Homo sapiens: one gene and its partners. The protein of the gene in region 3 interacts with the protein of the main gene of each other region in a pairwise test. Each region holds a gene or a part of one and is shown on either strand. Other genes may lie near its edges.

The links. The genes of interacting proteins can lie anywhere in the genome.
Region 1: the proteins of IQGAP1 (region 3) and MAGI1 interact in binary tests that used the Homo sapiens proteins (3 or more experiments, as listed by UniProt).
Region 2: the proteins of IQGAP1 (region 3) and PKNOX2 interact in binary tests that used the Homo sapiens proteins (3 or more experiments, as listed by UniProt).

Annotation. Positions count from the first base shown.
Region 1 is NC_000003.12:66,028,906-66,035,933, reverse strand, and holds part of MAGI1 (membrane-associated guanylate kinase, WW and PDZ domain-containing protein 1), read left to right. Parts: intron 1-7,028. UniProt on the Homo sapiens protein: Plays a role in coupling actin fibers to cell junctions in endothelial cells, via its interaction with AMOTL2 and CDH5. May regulate acid-induced ASIC3 currents by modulating its expression at the cell surface.
Region 2 is NC_000011.10:125,391,736-125,398,763, reverse strand, and holds part of PKNOX2 (homeobox protein PKNOX2), read right to left. Parts: intron 2,790-7,028; exon of another isoform or gene 2,668-2,789; intron 891-2,667; coding exon 702-890; intron 1-701.
Region 3 is NC_000015.10:90,475,228-90,482,255, forward strand, and holds part of IQGAP1 (ras GTPase-activating-like protein IQGAP1), read left to right. Parts: intron 1-1,435; coding exon 1,436-1,591; intron 1,592-1,839; coding exon 1,840-2,003; intron 2,004-2,437; coding exon 2,438-2,662; intron 2,663-6,732; coding exon 6,733-6,873; intron 6,874-6,969; coding exon 6,970-7,028. UniProt on the Homo sapiens protein: Plays a crucial role in regulating the dynamics and assembly of the actin cytoskeleton.

The DNA of each region.
Region 1 (7,028 bases), on a different chromosome or scaffold from region 3:
GTGTCTCTTCCTTCCACTAGTTGCCAAATTTCTGGGAGGCGATGTCCCAGGGCTCTCTCATCATGGAGTTTAGGAAGGCTTGGTGAGATAATCAAGTGGGTTTGGAAACAGACACCTCTGAGTTGAAAGGAAACTGTAGTGTCTCCAGGTGTTAGCTCTCTTCACCCCTTGTGCACAGATTGTTCACAGCAGGGGCGAGTGTGTGGGTATGTTTCTGTGTGTGTGTGTATATGTATGTATGGATGGATGTACGTGAATCTACTTGTAATGGGATAGAAATATGATACTGATTGGGAAACCTGAATGGCCTGGAATTCATTGCAGTCTGAAAGTGACTATTTCATGTAATAATTACACAGGCACAGTTGGATCTTCTGACGTCTTCATTACCAGTAATGATGGCCCTAGAAACCATTTCACCAGTTTTCTGCTCCCTCTTCCATGTTGAGAATATGATTTAGATTGTATGACAGAATTGCTCTTAATGTGTCTTCATTACTGTGCCTTTTAAAGTCATATCAAGCAGGCTCATACTTGGTATATGGTAAAGAAAAATACTACTTTTGTGTTGTTTGCATCCCAAGTTAGCCACTTCCAGGGACACAGATCACTCTGGATACTGTCTACATGGTGGGAGAAAATTCTGTTTTTCTACTTCATGGCAGTTCTCTGGAAAGATACATGGACCAAAACTGTCTGTGACAGGACTGGATTGTGCAGGAATCAAACTCAATGGATCTGCCAGGTTGGACTTGGTTCATTTTAAATGGAGAAGACAGTCCTTTGTCAGGTTGGAGTTGGTTCATTTTAAGTGGGGAAGACAGTACTTTGTCATAAAATGCCTTTACAAAGTTATATATAATTATGTGTATTCAGGTATCATTTACCTATAGTAAAATGCATATCTTAGATATATAATTTGATGAGTTTTAAGCGATGTATGCACTCATGTTAATCACTCAAATGAAGATAGAGAACATTTTCATCACCCCAGAAATTTTTCTCATGTTCCTGTCCAGTTAATTCCCCCCTCCCCCTGCACCATAGATCTACCATAGAATAATTTTGTCTTCAACTTCATAAAAATGAACTAATGCAGTATGTACTCTTTTGTGTTTGGCTTTTGTTACTCAACAAAATATTTTGGAGATTTCGTTTTGTTGCATGTGTACTTCATTTGGTTCTTTTTTTATTGCTAAGTAATATTCCATTGTATACACATACCAGTTTGTCCTTTTGCTTGTTTATGGACATTTGGAGTATTTACCATTTTTTACTATTACGAATAAAGCTGTTATTAATGTTTCAGTTGCTCTACATCTTTGGCCATCTTTGATTTTGTTTGTCTTTTGAATTTTAGCCGTCCTAGTATATGCTTCGGAAAAATGTAATTAAGGAAACTTTGATACAGGATATAAGATGTCGCTAGTATGTATTAAGATCTTGCCTTAGAATATAATAGGTGCTTGGCTAAGCTGATGCTTCGTGGGCATTCTCTTTTTCAGTCCTTACAATTGGACTCAGATGTTAGAAGCTGAGGTTCAGAGAATTTGGGTAACTTTTCCAAGGGTCATACCACAGTGGCAGTAGAGCTGCAACCCAGCTCTGTCTGATTCCAAAGCCTGTGCTCCCAATTCCTGGGACAGTAGGTCTCCAAGTGAGGTCCTCAGACCAGTGGCATTAGTATAGTAACCTGGGAACTGGTTAGAAATCCAGATTCCTGGGCCCCACCTTAGTTCTACCAATTCAGAAGCTTTGCGGGGGATGGGGTTGGGGTTGGGGGGTGGGGTAACAACCATGGGGTGTTTTAATAAACCCTCAAGGGATTCTGATGGGCTTATTAAGGGATTCAAGGGTTCAGTTTTAAGAACTACTGTACTAGGGTATAGACCAAAATTGAGAAGATGACATCAGATGAGACAGGTGACCTGGGTTCTAGAATAAGCTCTGCCAGTCACATTCTTGGAGCCTACATTTCTCTATGCCAAAAATAAGTGGGTGAGCCTCTTCAGGTTATTTGTGCTCGTGAAATCCTTTGTTTCCATGAATCACCCAGACTCCAAAGGTTTAAAATGGTATGATTGTAGTTTCCCAAAGTGGTGTATTACAGGTCATGCTTACATATTTTTGCAGGTGAATTTTGTGGTTTTTCAAATTACCCAGGAACTGTAACTATCCCTCTACTTTTTGTGTATGTGTGGCAGTGTGGAGATAATAAAAGAGATACAATTTAAAAGCCAAACCAAACCACCACCAGACCCTTCCCCTCACTGTAATGAGGGAAATTGTGATCACATATGGTTGAATATAGTTCTTTGTGTGGTTTTTTGTTTTGGTATTGTTTTGATTCATTGGAATGTATGACAATAACTCTCATTTTAAAACACAGGGCCTTGTCTTTCAGAGTTGTTTGGTTTCTCATGAATCTCTGGTCTTGCTTCTTTCTCCTCAGTGACCTCCTTCTGGTGTGCTGTAAAATGCTTAACAACCAGTGCTAGTAGTGGGTAGACCCTGATTTATAGCATAGCTGGAGTTGGGAAGAGACGCGTATACTTGCTGTTCCCAAGCCAATGTGAGCTGGCCCCCACACACCACTGACTGCATATAAGATAGTGCCCTTGTGGTGGCTCACCTGTAATCCCAGCACCTTGGGAGGCCAAGGTGGGTGGATCACTTGAGCTCAGGAGTTTAAGACCAGCCTGGGCAACATGGTGAAGTCTCTACCAAAAAATACATAAACTAGCTGGGCGTGGTGGCGAACTTCTGTAGTCCCAGCTACTCGGGAGGCAGAGTGGGAGAATCGCTTGAGACCAGGAGGCAGAGGTTGCAGTGAGCCAAGATTGTACCACTGCACTCCAGCCTGGGTGACAGAGTGAGACCCCCATCTCACACACACACACAAAAGATAGCTCCCTGAGTAAAGTGCCATTCCCTCACCCTGTTTGTTCCTTCATAGCCTTGACACAATCTCGTATTATCTTCTGTTGTTGTTGTTGTTGTTTTTTTTTTTTTTTTTTTTGAGATGGAGTTTCGCTCTGTTGCCCAGGCTGGAGTGCAGTGGTGCGATCTCGGCTCACTGCAACCTTTGCCTCCCGGGTTCAAGCAATTCTGATGCTTAGCCTCCCGAGTAGCTGGCATTATAGGCATGTACCACCATGCCTGGCTAATTTTTTGTATTTTAGTACAGGTGGGGTTTCGCCATGTTGCCCAGGCTGGTCTCTTGAGCTCAGGCAATCTGCCTGCCGCCTTGGCCTCCCGAAGTGCTAGGATTGTAGGCGTGAGCCACCGCAACGGGCCCTGTTTCTTCTTTATTGTCTGTTTCCCCTCCCATGAGAATAGAAGTTCCATGAAAACAAGAAGCTTGTCTCTCTTGTTCACTGCTGTATTTCTCAGTGTCTAAAAAAGACCCAGCAGGGCCAGGCGTGGTGGCTCATGCCTGTAATCCCAGCACTTTGGGAGGCCGAGGTGGGTGGATCACAAGGTCAGGAGTTCAAGACCAGCCTGGCCAAGATGGTGAAACCCTGTCTCTACTAAAAAAAAAAAAAAAACAAAAAAATTAGCCGGGCGTGGTGGTGGGCGCCTGTAATCCCAGCCACTAGGGAGGCTGAGGCAGAGAATTGCTTGAACCCGGGAGGCTGAGGTTGCAGTGAGCTGAGATCGCGCCACTGCACTCCAGCCTGGGTGACAGAGTGAGACTCATCTCAAAAAAAAGACCCAGCAAATAATAGGTGCTCACTAAAATTGGTTGGATGCCTGAATGACTATTCCATTGTTTCGGAAGGTAAGTGCAACTAGGCCACTTGCAACATCTTTCCTCCCTTTCTCTCGATTTGTCTTTTACTTCTTGTTTAGGATCCAGAGGTCTTCACTTTCTCGTAATCAGATCTTCCAATTAGCAGGCTTTCTGTGTCTAATAATTTATACTGGGCTATAAATGACTGACAAGGATTAATGAATCCTATTCAAGTATTTCTGCCTGTTGACTCTAACTGAAGTTTAACAAGTGAGCCTCTAAACGTGAAATTTCAGATGTTCAGCAGGCAGGATGATGAGGATTTTTTTTGTTGATGTGGGACCTGTGTCCTCATGCCTAAAAATGATTCTTTCCCTCCGTTTTCTTGCAGCATTGTCCCTGTGTACTTTTTTTTTTGGCTAATAGCAAATCAGATCTTTGCTACAGAACACAATCCAATTTTAGCCCTCTCGCTCTTAAATTGTACTTTGTATTTATGTCTTTTTTTTTTTAACTTAAACTTTCAAAAATCAACCTGTTTTTGTTCTTGGTGCCAAAAGACCACTCTTGGAAGGATATTTTTAGGTTACACTGTGGAACACTGTACAGGTTTTACAAAAAATGAAGCAAGGACGTACAACGCACTTGTCCATCGTTTCCAGTGGCCACCCCTTGTCATTGGCTGTGTTATTTAAAAATAGATTAACTTGACCTTCTGTGGCAATGGCATACAGTTGGCTCACCGTGTTTCTTGGCATTCATTACCCAGCTGGTTTTAGATGGCAGAATTGATGATATCCACCAAGGGGAATTAAGTGGTTTATAAGAGAAAACATTCTGACATCTCCTTACCACAAGGGTTTACATGAAGGATGTTGCTTTGTAAACGAGGGTTATTTAATGCAAAGCACCACTCTCTGGTGTTAGTGGCCCTTTCCTTGAGTTTGTATATACAAGTAACAGGATATACTGATTTTGTATACACTGAGAATAAAGGCTGTCAAATTCGTTAAGGGCTGACATTCACATCCTAAAAAAGTAGGTTACTGCATGCCTGCCTGTCTTTTTGCAGCTCATATGTGAGATCTGTAACCTTGAAAAATCCCTAGTACACACTGGTGCATTGCTAGACTTCTCCCCTATGGAGGTCGGCATCGATGTAGTATTTCTTATGAATTCATTTTGTTGTTTCAACAGATGTCAAGGTTGGTCCTATCATATTGACTCTGCTTTCTAGTTAAGTGTCCTGTGGAGGGTCTAATGTGTTCTGGATGTCAACTTTTCCGAAGGCATGTAGCAAAATTAGAAAATGTAATTTGAGCAGTGTCTTTTATGATTAAATAGAAATCTTCTCTTTTTATGGCTCAGTAATTACATAATGGAATAATCCATTATTAATCATTTCTGTAGTCTCTGTATCTGAGTGAAAGCCGAAGTCCTTATAGTGACTTCCAAGGCTGCCCGTGACCTGTCCTAAGGATATTACTTCTCTTTCTCTGTCCTGCCTGCTAGTGCCCACCTGATCATCTTACAGGCTTGCTATCTCTTGAGCTTCAAGTCTTTCTGAAATGTCACCTGCCCAGTGAGGCCTCTTGTGAGCACATTATTGAAAACCATAACTCCACTGCCACGTGTCATTCCCTGTTCCCCCTCTCAGCTTTATTTTACTCCATAGTATGTAGATCGCTTCACCACAAGTAAATTTCTTATTTTACCTCTTTCTCTAGAATGTAAGCTCTGAGATGGCAGGAATGTTGTCTTGTTCTCCCACAGTATCCCCAGTAGCAAAAACAGTGCATGGTGCCTAGTACTTGCTTGGGTATTTGTTAAATGTTTACAGTCAAGTTTAGAACTAGAATAAATCTCTTCTGAGGTCAGTTACCTCTGAAAATGTAGATATATAGAAGTCCCTGAAAATTTAGGTGACTGATGATGGATCACATTAAAGTTGGTTAGAGTTTAACATTTACAGTCAATGGCTGGGGCTAAAATAGAGCTTAGCCGATTGATCCAGGAATATTCTTAAAGTCAGTGAACATTGCTGGCCTGCTTCAGTTGGTCTTAGTATTATGGGTTTACAAGTAAGAACATGTGGGTCCTTGGTTTCTTGTCAAGAAGGGGAGGGAAGAGTCCACTGGAGTCTCCTTGGAGTCAGAGATAAGGTCACATTTCCAATTTTAGGTTTCCCTGCATGGAAGAGGTCCTTGACTTTAAAATTAATTGAGTGTCCTGATTTTCAGAGGTTACTTTGATTTGGGAAATGACGGTAACAAGGGGTACCAGGTGGCTGATCCAAACAGGAGAGCTGAGGCTACTAGAGTCACCATGAAGATCTTGTCGAGTTAGGGATAGGTCTGTGCACAGCATCCCTTACTTAGCCAAGTCATTGGCCTCAGTCCACTTTCAGTCCTGTGTGCTCCCCACCAACATGAATCCCTAGAAGGCAACTCTAGGTCAGGATTTGAATGCACAGGGCTTATCTGGGAGGTGCTCCCAGGAAGTTCCAGTAGGGCAAGGAAGAGGTGAGACCAGTGAGTCAAGAAGGCCAATGGAGATGCTTTAAAGAGCAAGTCACCACTGTGTGTCTAAGGCAGCCCCATGCTGAGTGTGTCATGGAACTTTGCAGACTCTCTCACCCCTAAACAGACTGAGAGGTTCTTCTGGCTGTGTGTATAGACTTTTTCTGTTACCATCTCCAGTGTCATGAAGATGAGTTCCATAAGATAATTACATTCTCATGGCTAAGGTATCAACCCCACCATTACTGTGGATGGAGGCATTTGTGTGTCTGTTTAATGGGCCACAGTTATGCTTCTTACAATAAGGATAATCTTTACTCCTTTATGAGACAAGACTCGAGGCTCTCTTTATGGACAGGGGCATGATGGTGCAATTAAAAGGCGATCGTGCCCTGATTATAAGCCATGTTTCAAAATTACTGCTATATATAGTGTCATCAGGACCGTAGTACTGCTCATAAAATGATCCACAAATAGCAATTTACTGATGTGTCATAGAGTCAGATTTTGGACCCAAGGTTGGCTTGGGTGAAGAGGCAGGCTTTACACTTTATGAGCTGGGTGTTCTGGGGCAAGATGCTGAACCTCTTTGTGCCAGGTTTCCCCCTCGGAAAATGGGGATAATAATGATACCTACTCTCTAGGGTTGTTGGAAAAGTAGAAAGTAAACCACATGACACAGGGCTTGGCACATAGTGAGTGCTCAATAAATGTTGGCTTCTGTAATTGTTTGAATGCTCCCCATTTGAAAGCCCTTGGGAGAGAAGAAAGAATCT
Region 2 (7,028 bases), on a different chromosome or scaffold from region 3:
CCAGGCAGCTTTCTCGGTTTGTAGGTTTGGGGAAAATATCCTGCCCTGGAGGGGAAACCCCATCTTGCCCAAAGCGTGTAGTCAGCATTTCTGCATTTCCCAGGTCTCAGGAAGGAGGTGGCAGGGGAACCTGGGAACAGGGTGGTTTGAGGTGACCTTGACCATGGCCCTGAACCTTAGGGGGACAGAGATGCCAGAGTAGCGTGAGTGCCTGGAGAATGATTAGGGAGCAGCAGGCCCATGGGAAGCTGGCTTCACCCATTAGGTGGGCAGGATTCAGGGAATGACTGCTTTCCCCAAATGCCCTTTCCCAGAAATGCAGATGGCTCAGCAAGCCGCAGCCTCTTAAGAAGCCTGTCCCAGCTCATCCTCCAGGAGAGCTTTCCTTCTCCTTAGCTCTGGTGCTCATTCTGGGGGATACCTTGGGCCAGGAAGCCAGGAATGATTTTGGACATTGTCCCTCTCCGATCTGGTCATTTTCAAGGGAATACTAATGCCCTGGCAGGGCAGACTGTGTGTAAAAAAGGGATGGGATGGCCTAATGGATATGAAGAAGAGTGCATCAGAGGAGGGCCCTCATGGCAAAGGAACCCAGTGGGTCTAACCCAGTGAAGGTCACCAGGGGACCTTCCTCCACGCGTGGCTCCAGAGCTGGGCTTAGGAGCCTGGCTTAAGAGATGGGACCCAGCTCTGGGTGTTACCTGTGAGTGAAGGTTGATGGAGGGCTGGTTGGGGGAGTAGGGCCCCCCTAGATCATTCCTGAGCAGGTTGTCGCTGTGCATCTTGGTTTTGAGGCAGGTGATGTAACGGTTACAAAAGTCCTTGCAGAGTTCATTGACTTTCTCCAGCTCCAGCAGGTGGATTCTCAGGACCTGGATTGCCTTCACCATCTGTGGAGAGGGAGGAGAGGTGAGCCCAGGTGTTTGCATCCCATTTCCCTCACTGCCTGGACCCCCAGCCCCCACCACCCCAGGGGAGGGGAGCCCACCCCCTGCCGTAGCTCATGCTTCCTACACTTGATCTTGGCCAAAAGGCCCAGAAGTGGTAGGCGGTGCCTTCTCATCCCCATGACTTCAGTTCTAATGATGGCTCTCTGCTAATTATTCCTTTGCTCTGAGCCCTCTGTTATCACAGCTGTTCTTGAGGCAGTTGTGGTATTCTGAGAACAGCATTGGCCTTAGCGATGGGAGGCCAGGTCCAAGCCCCCGGCCTGTCATTTACTATCTGTGTGAGCTTGGGCAAGTTGCTCAAGCTCTCTGTGCCTTAGTGGCTAACAAATGGGGATAATTAGATTCTCCCTGACAACTTTACAGGTTTGTTGTGAGTATTGTATGAGGGCGTATACATGGTAGCACATTGTGAGGTGTGAAGGACCAGGCAAGCCTGAGGAAGATGGAGATCAGAATTTCTTATAAGTGCCTCTAGAGCTCAGGGACTGTCTATTCTTAAACAAGCATTCTGAGTGCCTCATGGGATACCGGTTACCTTGTGGACGCTCTGTGGATACTTGCTGATGGACTGAATAATCCAGCATGACTTAGCTGGGCACCAGCTACCTCACTGTCTGCTGTGGCCTTTTCCATGCCCTTTGGATTGCTGTACGGGAGCCTGCTGCCTCTTCAAATGGACATTCCTAACCTTTTCGTGGCAAGAAGCTATTTTGCAATTGAAGCTTTGCTCTTTACTGCTGTTATTATCATAAAAAGAAAATACTATGGAAGGTATGGAAAGCAGGGTGAAAAAAACCTGTCTTCGATCCAATCGCCTTAAAGAATGATTTTTTCCTACACCCATATATTTTAACATAGTTTCAATAACCTTGTGCATGCAATTTTGTTTTCTGTTTTTTCCCTCTAGTTTAGCAAATCTATTTTTCTAAGTGCCAGAATTGTTTTCTCTATCCTCTCTTCTAGACTATGAGCTTTGAGAAGGCAGGGATGATGTCTAATTTGCTCACCATGTTATCTTCAGCACGAACACATATGGATATGGAGTAAACATTTGCTGAATGGGTGAAAGTTATTGAGTAAACATATTTTTAAATGTTGCATATTATTTCATGTGTGTGCCATACTTAACCAGTCTCCTATTGTTAGGTATTTAGATTACTTCCAATTTTTCAATTTTATAAAAAATGTTACAGTGAATATTTTCTAAGCTTATAGCTTTTTTTTTTTTTTTTTAAAAGTTTCTGCATTATTCTTTAGGATGAATTCCCAGAAGTGACAGGAAAAAAAGCTATGAACGTTCTTGTGGATTATGATAAATATTGCCAAATTGCTTTTCAACAGGGGGTTGTTCAAATGGTGCTAGAATAATTAGACATCCACATGCAAAAAAACTGAATCTTGATTTAAACCTCATACCTTAGATGAGATTAACTCAAAATGGATCAAAGACATAAATGTAAGACAGAAAACTATAAACCTCTTAAAAAAAAACAGGAAAAAATCTTCAGGATCTAGGGTGAGGCAAAGAGATCTTAGAGTTGACACCAAAAGCATGATCCAGGCTGGGCACAGTGGCTCACGCCTGTAATCCCAGCACTTTGGGACATCGAGGCAGGAGGATCACTTGAGGTCAGGAGTTTGAGACCAGCCTGGCCAACATGGTGAAACCCCATATCTACTAAAATTACAAAAATTAGCCAGTGGTGGTTGTGCATGCCTGAAGTCCCAGCTACTTGGGAGGCTGAGGCAGGAGAATCGCTTGAACCCAGGAGGTGGACGTTACAGTGAGCCGAGATGGAGCCACTGCACTCCAGCTTGGGCGACAGAGCGCAACTCCATCTAAAAAAAAAAAAAAAAAAAGATGATCCAGTGAGGAACTGGACGCTGTCAAAATTAAAAATGTTTACTCTTCAAAAGACCCTGTGAAGAAGAGGAAAAGACTACATACTGGAGGAGAATATTTGCAAACCAAGTACCTGACAAAGGACTTGTATCTAGGATATATAAAGAACTCTCAAAACAAAACAGTAAAATAACAAGCAACCCAATTAGAACATGGTCATAAGACATGATTAGACATTTCACTGAAGAGGATATACAGATGGCAAATAAGCACAAGAGAAGATATTCAATGTCATTAGTCACTAGGGAAATGCAAATTAAAACCACAATGAGATATCACTACACACCTATTGGTATGGTTAAAATAAAAGAAATAAATATGACAACACCAAATGCTGGTGAGGAACTGGAGACTAGAACACTCAGACATTGCTGTTAAGAGTGTAAAATGGTACAGCCACTCTGGAAAACAGTATGACAATTTCTTACAAAACTAAATATGTGCGTACCATATGACCCAGCAATTGTACTCTTGGGCATTTATCCCAGAGAAATAAAAACATATGTTCTTACAAAAACCTGTATACAAATTGTTCAAAGCAGCTTTACTTCTAATAGTCAAAAATCGGAAACAACCCAAATGTACTTCAATGGGTGAATGGATAAAGAAACTGTAATTCATCCATATCATGGAATATAACTCAGCAATAAAAAAGAATGAGCTATTGATATGCCCAACAATGTGGATAGATTGCAAGGGAATTTTCCTGAGAGACAAAAGCCAGTCTCAAAGGATTATATACTATATGATGCCATTTACAAAACGTTTTTGAAATGACAAAATTATAGAGATGGAAGACAGAAAGACAGATTAGTGGTTGACAGCGGTAGAGTGGAGGAGGGAGGGAGGAACTGTTCTGTACTTTGCTATAACAATGTTTATGTGGATCTAAGTATATGATAAAATTGCACAGAACTAATTACATGTACACACACACACACACACACACACGAGGGCACGTAAAACTGGTGAAATCTGAATACAGTTGGTGGATTGTTCCTGGCTGTGAAATTGTGCTATGGTTATACAAGATGTGAATCAGGAGCTCTCTGTATGAGTTCTTATAACTGCATGTGAATCTACATTTATATCAAAATTAAATGTAACCGCTAGGAGCGGGTGATGCTTATTGCTTTTCCAGATCCATTTATGTTGACGCAAGCAATATATGGGATCTCTTTTTAGTCCCACCCTCCTAGCTTTTGGCTAGCTCCTGGATGCCTAGAGGAGAGTTTGGACAATATAAAAAGGGATGGAAACAAGGAAGGAAATCTCTCCCAGAGAATTGTGACTGTGAGGTGTGTGTAGAGAAGTGTGGCTTGAAGCCAGCATTACACCCTTCTCTGAGCCTCATTGGCATTTCAAGTGGGGAGCCCACATTCCCTGGGCTGGGCTTGTGGCTTGTCTGATGAGCAGGGATTGTGCTCAACTAATTAAGGGTTTTTGGAGTACTAAATTAGACCAAGTGTCACTCAAAGACAGAAAGCAGCGATTGTGTGTCGTCATGCAGGGCTCAGTCACAAGGTCTCCTCCTAAGAAGTACCACCTCTGTGGGGCTGAGACTGAGGGAGACTGAGCCATCCTAAGCAAAGAGGAAAATTGTGACTTTAGAATGGATCATTTGGACCCCAAAGTGGAGTTAAGTACTTAATAAAGATTTGTTCTTGCCTAATGTTCTACTTGACTTTGGCCACGAACATCTTGGTCTATGTCTCTCAGTGTAATGAGCACAGGATAAGGTACTTAACACATATGCGTTGCTGGATTGTTAATAATACCCAAACGTTTCTTATTCAGACTGTGTCTCAGGCACTGTGTTAAGCCCATTCCAGGCCTTATTTATTCCACACAACCATCTCATTAAGTAGGTACCATTATTGCTCATATTTTGCATTTGAAGAAAATAAAATCCAAAAATATTACGTTTCCTTGCTTAGAGTCACACAACTGGTGAGCGATATGAAGCCAGGTTGCCCCACCCCCCACCCGTGTGCCTTGTCTTTCAATATGGACTCTCAGGATTATGTAGGTAGAGGAAGTGGTAGTATAAAGGGTGCGTGGTTTGGGAGAAAGTGGCTCAGTGACAGCAAGTACGGGGTTCTAGGAAGCCAAGTAGCTTTTGAGACATCAAAGTTTAGGATTTCCAGAACCCTTCCTGGTAATGTGCCTTTTCTCAGCTGCTCTGATCTCCCATCTCTCACTCCTGGCACAGCCCCCCGGGGTCCAAACACCTCACCAACACAGGTGCCTGCTTCTCCATGTGCACACGGAGAGGGCTGGACTGTCAGGTCCCTTACGTTTTCTGACTCTCTGAACATTACCAGGACTTCTGCCCTCAATTCACGCCTGATGGTGTTAGAATGAACCCCACACGGTGACCTGGACCAGCCTCTAGGTGGCTGCACAGTCCAAACTCATCAGGACACAGGCTGCATCTTCTCCTCCAGCCTCTCCCGGTCACTGGGCGATGACCTTGTTGCCTCGGACCTTCTCCATATTCTCTCAGTCTGCTGATTAGAAGCTTTTCCTTATATTCAATCAAAATCTCTCCCGCCTTAATGTAAAGTGCCTTCTGTAGGCACCAAGAACATCGAGGAACTTCTAGGACCTCTATCAACACAACTTCTTTTTAATTTAATTTTATTCATTCAACAAGTATTGAGTCTTACTATATGCCACATATTGGACCAGGCATCTGACTTGAACAAGTTGTTCAATTAACTTTCTCTTCTCTCTTTTTTTTTTTTTTTTTGAGACGAGTCTTGCTCTGTCGCCCAGGCTGGAGTGCAGTGGCGCGATCTCGACTCACTGCAAGCTCCACCTCCTGGTTCACGCCATTCTCCTGCCTCAGCCTCCCAAGCAGCTGGGACCACGCCCGCCACCACGCCGGGCTAATTTTTTTTTTTATGTATTTTTAGTAGAGACAGGGTTTCACTGTGTTTCCCAGGATAGTCTCGATCTCCTGACCTCATGATCCGCCCACCTTGGCCTCCCAAAGTGCTGGGATTACAGGCGTGAGCCACCGCGCCCGGCCAAACTTTCTCTTTTCTAGACAAAAACGATCGTCATTCCTTAAACCTTTCTTCTCTTTCCCTTCCCCGTTCCTTCTTTCCTCCCTCCTTTCTTTCCTTTTTTCCTTCTTTCTCACACACATACATATATTCACACATACACAGAGAAAAGTGCACTTACCTATTCATTTATTTTAAATATATAACCAATTTATACTTACTTTATAAAATCAGAAAATACAGGTAAGTAAAACAAAAGTAAAATATACTCAGAAGAGCTTTGCTCAAATAAAATACACGCACAGCATGTTTAAACCAGGTCTGGTGCACAGTGACCAAAAGTGGACTTATCCTTTGGTCTAATAAAGTGCAGCTGAAGGATTACTTTTTTATGGGCTAATGGAATTGGTTGAAAGATTTAAGGAGGTAGAGTAAATCATAATGGTATTCTGAGGCAATGAATATGTAGGACCTGTTCAATATTAGAAAGGTAGGCAACACTATCAATGTTAGAGGGCTGCCTGGCAGGGCAGGAACACTGTGGGTTCATTGTCAGGCAGCCTGGATTTGAGTCCGAGCCCGCTCTCTGTTAATTGGGTGCCGTTGGGCAAATTCCATGATTTCTCTGAGCCTCAGTCTCTTTACGTGTAAAATGGGGATAATGTTCATCTCTAACTCACAAGATTTGAAAGGGGCTAAAGGAGATAATGATGTAAACATGCTTTATAAACCACAGTAAACCAAATGCATGCAAGTTGTAAAAATAATCTCTTCTAATAATGTCTGATATCCCATTGGCTTTTCTACTGCTATTCTACGTCCAGCCAGTGAAAAAATAGTAACTCCAAGGGTCTTTTTTGCTCCCATATTTGTGTTTAGTAAATCATCCTCTATCCTGTGTTTACAATTTTGGATTTTTGTCTCCAAGTTAGAAAATTCTGATTTATTAAACTATTTTTCTAAATGATCGGGGTCATGTGAAAATTTATTCCAAATCTTCTAGGGCAATAACAATGCCACTTAATTCAACATCACCGCCAAATGTGGTGAATGCATCCTTAATTCCTCTCCCCAGGTGTTGCTCCATCTTTCAGCTTCTTTCCCTCCCTTCTCTTTCAAAATAATGATTCAGCCCTCTTTTTCTAAGAAGTCTGCATCAAAAAA
Region 3 (7,028 bases):
ACCTCGGGTGATCCACCCGCCTCAGCCTCCCAAAGTGCTGGGATTACAGGCGTGAGCCACGACACCCGGCTTTTTTGCATTTTTAGTAGAGACGGGGGTTTCACCATGTTGGCCAGGCTGGTCTGGAACTCCTGGCCTCAAGTGATTGATCCACTCACCTTGGCTTCCCAAAGTGCTGGGATTACAAACATGAGCCACCATGCCCGGCCATCATAAGCTTTTAAAAAAGTTATGTAAGACAGGTCAGGCATGATGGCTCACACCTATAATCCCAGCACTTTGGGAGGCCGAGAAGGGCGGATCACTTGAAGCCAGGAGTTTGAGACCAGCCAGGCCAACATGGTGAAACCCTGTCTCTACTAAAAATTAAAAAAAATTAGCTGGACATGGTAGTACATGCCTGTAATTTCAGCTACTCAGGAGGCTGAGGTGGAAGAATCGCTTGAACCTGGGAGGCAGAGGTTGCAGTGAGCCAAGATTGCATGACTGCACTCCGGACTGGGTGACAGAGTGAAACTCTATCTCCAAAAAAAAAAAAAAAAAAAAAATTATTTAAGACATAAAACAACTTAATTGACAAAATTTTGATAGAGAAAAGAAGATAAATGTCTTCCCCTAATTTCACCTACCCCAGTCATTTTGTATCTTACATTCTTACTTCATATTAAAGGATAAGACTCTTTCCCTATGATAAGTAGTCATAATTTTTTTTTAATTTTATTTTTTGAAACAGAGTTTCCCTCTGTACCCCAGGCTGGAGTGCAGTGGCATGATCATGACTCACTGCAACCTCGACCTCCTAGGCTCAAGTGATTCTCCCACTTCAGCCTCTCAAGTAGCTAGGACGACAGGTGCATGCCACCACGTCTGGCAAATTATATTTTTATAAGAGATAGGGTATCTTTGTATTGCCCAGGCTGGTCTCAAAACTCCTGGGCTCAGGTGATCCTCCTGCCTCAGCCTCCCAAAGTGCTGGGATTACAGGTGTGAGCCGCTGCACCCAGCCATAAATATTATTTTTAACAGTAGCATATTAGATTTTTAGAAGATATACTATGATTTACCTCTTTTTCCCCTAGTATTTGACATTTAGGTTGTTTTCCAAGCGTTTATTATAAATAACATTGCAATTAATGTTTCAATATATATGTAGCTTTTATTGTATTTAAGACTTATTTTTATAATAGACTGCTGGAAGTTGGTTTGCCAATTCAGTGGACATTCTTATGGCTCAGATTCTTTGTTGGAACATAGGAATGGATTTGACTGGTGTACTGAAAACAGGATAAAGTGTAGTGGTTTTTAAATATTCAGTGGGAATCTGCCAGTGCAGTACACCTTCATGTGAGTTTGCACATGCTGCAAAACCTTTCCTCAATGCCCAGAGGTTCATCTTTGAAAGCTTTCTGATCTATTTATTGGTTTTTGTTTATAGGATGTGGTTTCCCACAGTAAAAAACTTACCAAAAAAAATAAGGAACAGTTGTCTGATATGATGATGATAAATAAACAGAAGGGAGGTCTCAAGGCTTTGAGCAAGGAGAAGAGAGAGAAGTTGGAAGCTTACCAGCACCTGTTTTATTTATTGCAAGTAAGTGGCTCCTGGAATCAGTGTTATAAAAATTTAGTGAATTTATTTTTCCACAAGAAAGCCTTACCATCGATCTCTCTGGAAGTATTTTTGACTTCCACTGAGGGGTGAGTGAGGGGCACTGTAACATGTTAATTTATTAATCTTTTTTCTCATATGTATTGTAGTCCTTCAATTTTAAATAATTGAATATATCTTGCCAGCCTTTATATTACCTACAAATGACTTATCCCTTGGTTTTATTTCAGACCAATCCCACCTATCTGGCCAAGCTCATTTTTCAGATGCCCCAGAACAAGTCCACCAAGTTCATGGACTCTGTAATCTTCACACTCTACAACTACGCGTCCAACCAGCGAGAGGAGTACCTGCTCCTGCGGCTCTTTAAGACAGCACTCCAAGAGGAAATCAAGTATGAACAGATTTCCTCAGGGCACAGGCCCCTTCCCACTATCAGAGGGGCTCCCAGTTTGAGATTCATGCCTTCCTGATCTTTTCTTGATCTCAATTAATTTATGAAAAATACTTACTCTAAAGAAGCATCTAATTTTTAAATAACTGATATAAAATCTTGCTGCTTCTAGGGAAGGGATAAATTAACTTTAGGAACATTCTGTATTAAGGTATAATTTCAAAAAGTAATCTGAACAGAAAGAATTCACATTTTTATCTAGTAGCGGACCCAATCATGACCACGATTGAGCGTGCAGCTGCAGGAACATTCTGTGAGTGCTGGGGAATGTTTCGAGAGAAACTGTTTCAGGGAGATAGGATCTTTAAGCAGGAAGGATCTTTTAAGTTGATGGGTTTTGTGACAAGTTTAAATTTTTATCTGATGTTTTATAGGTCGAAGGTAGATCAGATTCAAGAGATTGTGACAGGAAATCCTACGGTTATTAAAATGGTTGTAAGTTTCAACCGTGGTGCCCGTGGCCAGAATGCCCTGAGACAGATCTTGGCCCCAGTCGTGAAGGAAATTATGGATGACAAATCTCTCAACATCAAAACTGACCCTGTGGATATTTACAAATCTTGGGTTAATCAGATGGAGTCTCAGACAGGAGAGGCAAGGTATGTTAACCATAATGACACTTTTCTTTCATGTTGTTATAGTCTTTCCCTCTTTTTTCCCCTCTCTTTATTTATAAACTAATATTAGTTCAAATAGTTTTTCTTTTCTTTTCTTTTTTTAGACAGAGTTTCACTCTTGTCGTCCAGGCTGGAGTACAGTGGCATAATCTCAGCTCACTGCAGCCTCCACCTCCCAGGTCTAAGCAATTCTCATGCCCCAGCCTCCCGAGTAGCTGGGATTACAGTTGCACGCTACCACACCTGTCTGATTTTTGTATTTTTAGTAAGACTGGGTTTCACCATGTTGGCCAGACTGGTCTCGAACTCCTGACCTCAGGCAATCCATCTGCCTCGGCCTCCCAAAGTGCTGTGATTACAGCTGTGAGCCACCACACCCAGCCTCAAATAGTTTTTCTTTAGAAAACTGTGCTTTCTAAGTTGTTGACCTAGTAATAAATTCACTTATTTAGCAAATATTTATTGAGTATTAACTATGTGCCAGGCATTGTGTTAGAGATGTGTACAGTAATGCAATAATGAGTGAAACAGACATGCTTCCTGCCCTCTCTTCATAGTTCATTGGGTGGAAGAGACACCAACCAGGTACATAAAAATAAAAGCATAATTAAACATTGAAGAAAGTTTTATGAAGTTTTATGTACGGTTCTTTAATGGAGACTTTATAAGAGGGAGCTAACATAAGGTGGTTAGGGAAAGCCTATCCCGGAAGATAAAATTTCATTTAGCTGAGGCCCTAAAGCTAAGATGAACCCAGCCTTACTAAGAGCTAGGTGCAGAGTGTTTATGTCTGAACACTCTAAGCTGGAGGGTGTAGGACTTAAATGGACCCTGGCATAACTAGGGATACAGTTGAATGAGAAGGTTCATATAGATTGGGTGAGATCACTGTGTTTCATTAAAGGAAAAAGAAAACGGTGTGGAGTGAGCTTCCCTGAAATATCGTGAGTTGGGCTAATTAAATTAACGTATTACAGGAGATAGCTGAGCTAGGGCCATAGCGTAACCACCAACATTCATTTATCTAAAGCAAAAGTGTGCCAATCAAATATTGGTAATGCTGGGAAAAGGGAGTTCAGAATGCCAAAACGTTTCTGGTTTTATTTGTCTTGGGTGAGGACCCAGAGGGGTGGGAGATGGAGGTGTGAGCAGCATGGTCTGTTGTGGTTTTTTCTTGTTGTGGAGTAGAGTTAGATCATGCATGAAGCTCTCTGGGCATAGGTGGAGTAGCAGCTGTCCACACCATTGCTATTCAAAGTGTGGTTTGCACACCAGTAATGGAAAATCATCTGTGCACACTGTTTAGTTTAACTGATACTTTTTTTTTCATAGCAAGATTTTCTTAATGAAGGAAGTAATGTATTGATTTACATTCTGACTCATTGTCTTTATCTTGTCTTTGATCAGTTTGTAGACTGGCACTGGTCCACACTTTGAATAACACTATTCTTCATTCTACTTTCCATGTACCCGGATGCCAGGCAAACAGGGAGTTTTACGCTGGGTGGAGAACGGAACATTCTGCTGACTCCTTGAAAGGGCTTATCTCACCAGCCATGGTAGCTCACGACTGTAATCCCAGCTCTTTGGGAGGCTGAGGTGGGAGGATTGCTTGAGCTCAGGAGTTTGAGACCAGCCTGGGTAACATAGGGATACCTTGTCCCTACTTAAAAAAAAAAAAAAAAAAAATTAGCTGGGTGTGGTTGTGCACACCTGTAGTTCCAGCTATTCCAGAGGCTGAGGCAGGAGGATAGGTTGAGCATGGGAGGTTGAGGCTGCAGTGTGCCTTGATGGCGCCACTGCACTCCATCCTGGTTGACAAAAAAAGAAAGAAGGGGCGTTTCCTTATTAGGAATCATTTGGCATCTGATTGGTTCTCAGTACCATGTAGGTCTGTTATCAGGACTCAGATCATTGCAAAAGTCTTTTTAATTTTTTTGCCTGCATACCTGAGGCCCACATCCAGGAATGTGGTCAGCCAAGTGCAATACTTGTCTGGGAAGTTTTGCCTGCAACCCAGGGCATTCCTTGCCGATAGCCCCATGTACACTGGCTCCGGGCTTCTCAGTTATTTCCTCTGATGGTCCATGAGTCAGTCATTTTCAGATCCAAAGCCCGCTGGACATTTCAGGATTGGTTTTCTTGTGGGTACCTATAAGAAACTGGTGTCTTATTTTGCCTTTCATAAAATGGAAATTGAGCCAGGCATGGTGGCATGCACCAGTAGTCCCAGTTGCTCAGGAGGCCAAGACAGGAAGATCGCTTGAGCCCAGGAGTTTGAGCACTGCCTGGGCAATGTAGACCCCATATCTTAAAAAAAAAAAAAAAAAAAAAGGAAATTGATTTGAACTCTTTTTAAGATACCAGTGACTGTGAGGGATGGTGGTGTGGTGGGGATCTGTCCTGCAGGTAAGCATCACAGGTCCCTTAGCTTTCTTCTTTTACTTCAGCCACCATACACGTAGCAAACTGGAATCTTGTCACCTCTTGGGAATGTTCTTTCCTAAAATCTCAAAGTTAATGTTCTGTTCTATCACCAACGTTTTTTAGCATATTGATTCCCTTGCTGGTTACTACTTTTAAAACTCATATAAATAATAAAATATACAATATTCTTTATTGTTAAGTTCCATGTATTTATTTATTTCTCATAGAATGTTTCTGTTGATTTTTGCAGAATTTTTGTGTTCATAGTCTACCAATTTTAATTTAGCCATGCTATGACAAATGAAGAGGGGTATCCCTATCTACTTGTATTTTTCTTTTTGTTGTTGTGGTTGAGACAGAGTCTCGTTCTGTTGGTCAGGCTGGAGTGCAATGGTGTAATCTCAGCTCACTGCAACCTCTGCCTCCCTGGTTCAAGCGATTCTGCTGCCTCAGCCTCCCGAATAGCTGGGATTACAGGCATGCGCCACACGCCTGGCTAATTTTTGTATTTATAGTAAAGATGGGGTTTCTCCATGTTGGCCAGGCTGGTCTCAAACTCCTGACCTCAGGTGATCCACCCGCCTCGGCCTCCCAAAGTGCTAGGATGACAGGCGTGAGCCACCACACCCGGCCTCTACTTGTATTTTCTAAGGCTGCCATAACAAATCACCTCAAATTGGGTGGCTTAAAACAACCGAAAGTCATGGTCTCACAATTGTGGAGGCCAGAAATTTGAAACCATTATCATGAAGTCGAGGTGCTGGAAGAGCCACGCTCCCTGCAGAGGCTCTAGTGGAAACTCTGTTTCTTGACTCTTAGAGCTTGTGGTGACTGTTGACATCCCTCAACTTGTGGCTGTGTGGTTCCAGCCTCTGCCTTTGTGGTCACATTGCCTTCTCTTCCCCTTCTGTGTGTACCAAAGCTCTCTCTGCCTCTTTTTTTTTTTTTTTTTTTTTTTTTTAAGACAAGGTCTTGCTCAAGCAGTCCTCCCACCTCAGCCTTCCTAGTAGCTGGGAATGCTAGCATGTGCTGCTGTGCCTGGCATAGCACTCCTATCCTTGAAGACCTCCTTCTGGTTTCTAACAAAGTCCAGATTTGTCAGTATCATATACGGGGTCTGTCATGGCCTGCTCCCTGTCTGCTTTTCCACTGTCATTTCTCCTGTCTCCCCTTCCTTCCTAGAAGACTCTTCCTCTCCTTTTTTCCTGAGTTCAAGCATCCCTTCGTTTTGGAAGCTTTCCTTGCTTTTTCCATTCTGAGTTGAAGCCCTTTCCCTATGGTCCTGTGGCACTTTTGGTGAACTGATTTACAGCACAATAGGTTTATAATCATCTGTTTGTGTGTCGCTCCCACCAGACTGTAAAAGACTGAAGAGAAGGTGTCATGTCTTGTATAACTTTTATTCCCAAGTGCCTGTTATTGTGCCTGGCACACAATTCAGGCACCTGATTCACAGTTAAAAACCTGCGTTCAGATTCTAGACTTATCACTTACCAGCCCCGTGAGGATGAGCTTAAGCTATCTAATATTTCTGGGTCTTATAGTTTATGAAAGATAAGACACTTGCTTCAGGCTGTTCCTGGCTGTTAGTCTAACATAGTTGGGTATAATTTCTGTCTTCCCAGCAAACTGCCCTATGATGTGACCCCTGAGCAGGCGCTAGCTCATGAAGAAGTGAAGACACGGCTAGACAGCTCCATCAGGAACATGCGGGCTGTGACAGACAAGTTTCTCTCAGCCATTGTCAGCTCTGTGGACAAAATCCCGTGAGTGCCATCAGTTGTCATGACCCCCAGTAGAACCCAGCACTAAGTGCCTTTCTGCTCCTTGGCCCTTCTCACTAAGTTTTGTCCATCCCGCAGTTATGGGATGCGCTTCATTGCCAAAGTGCTGAAGGACTCGTTGCATGAGAAGTTCCCTG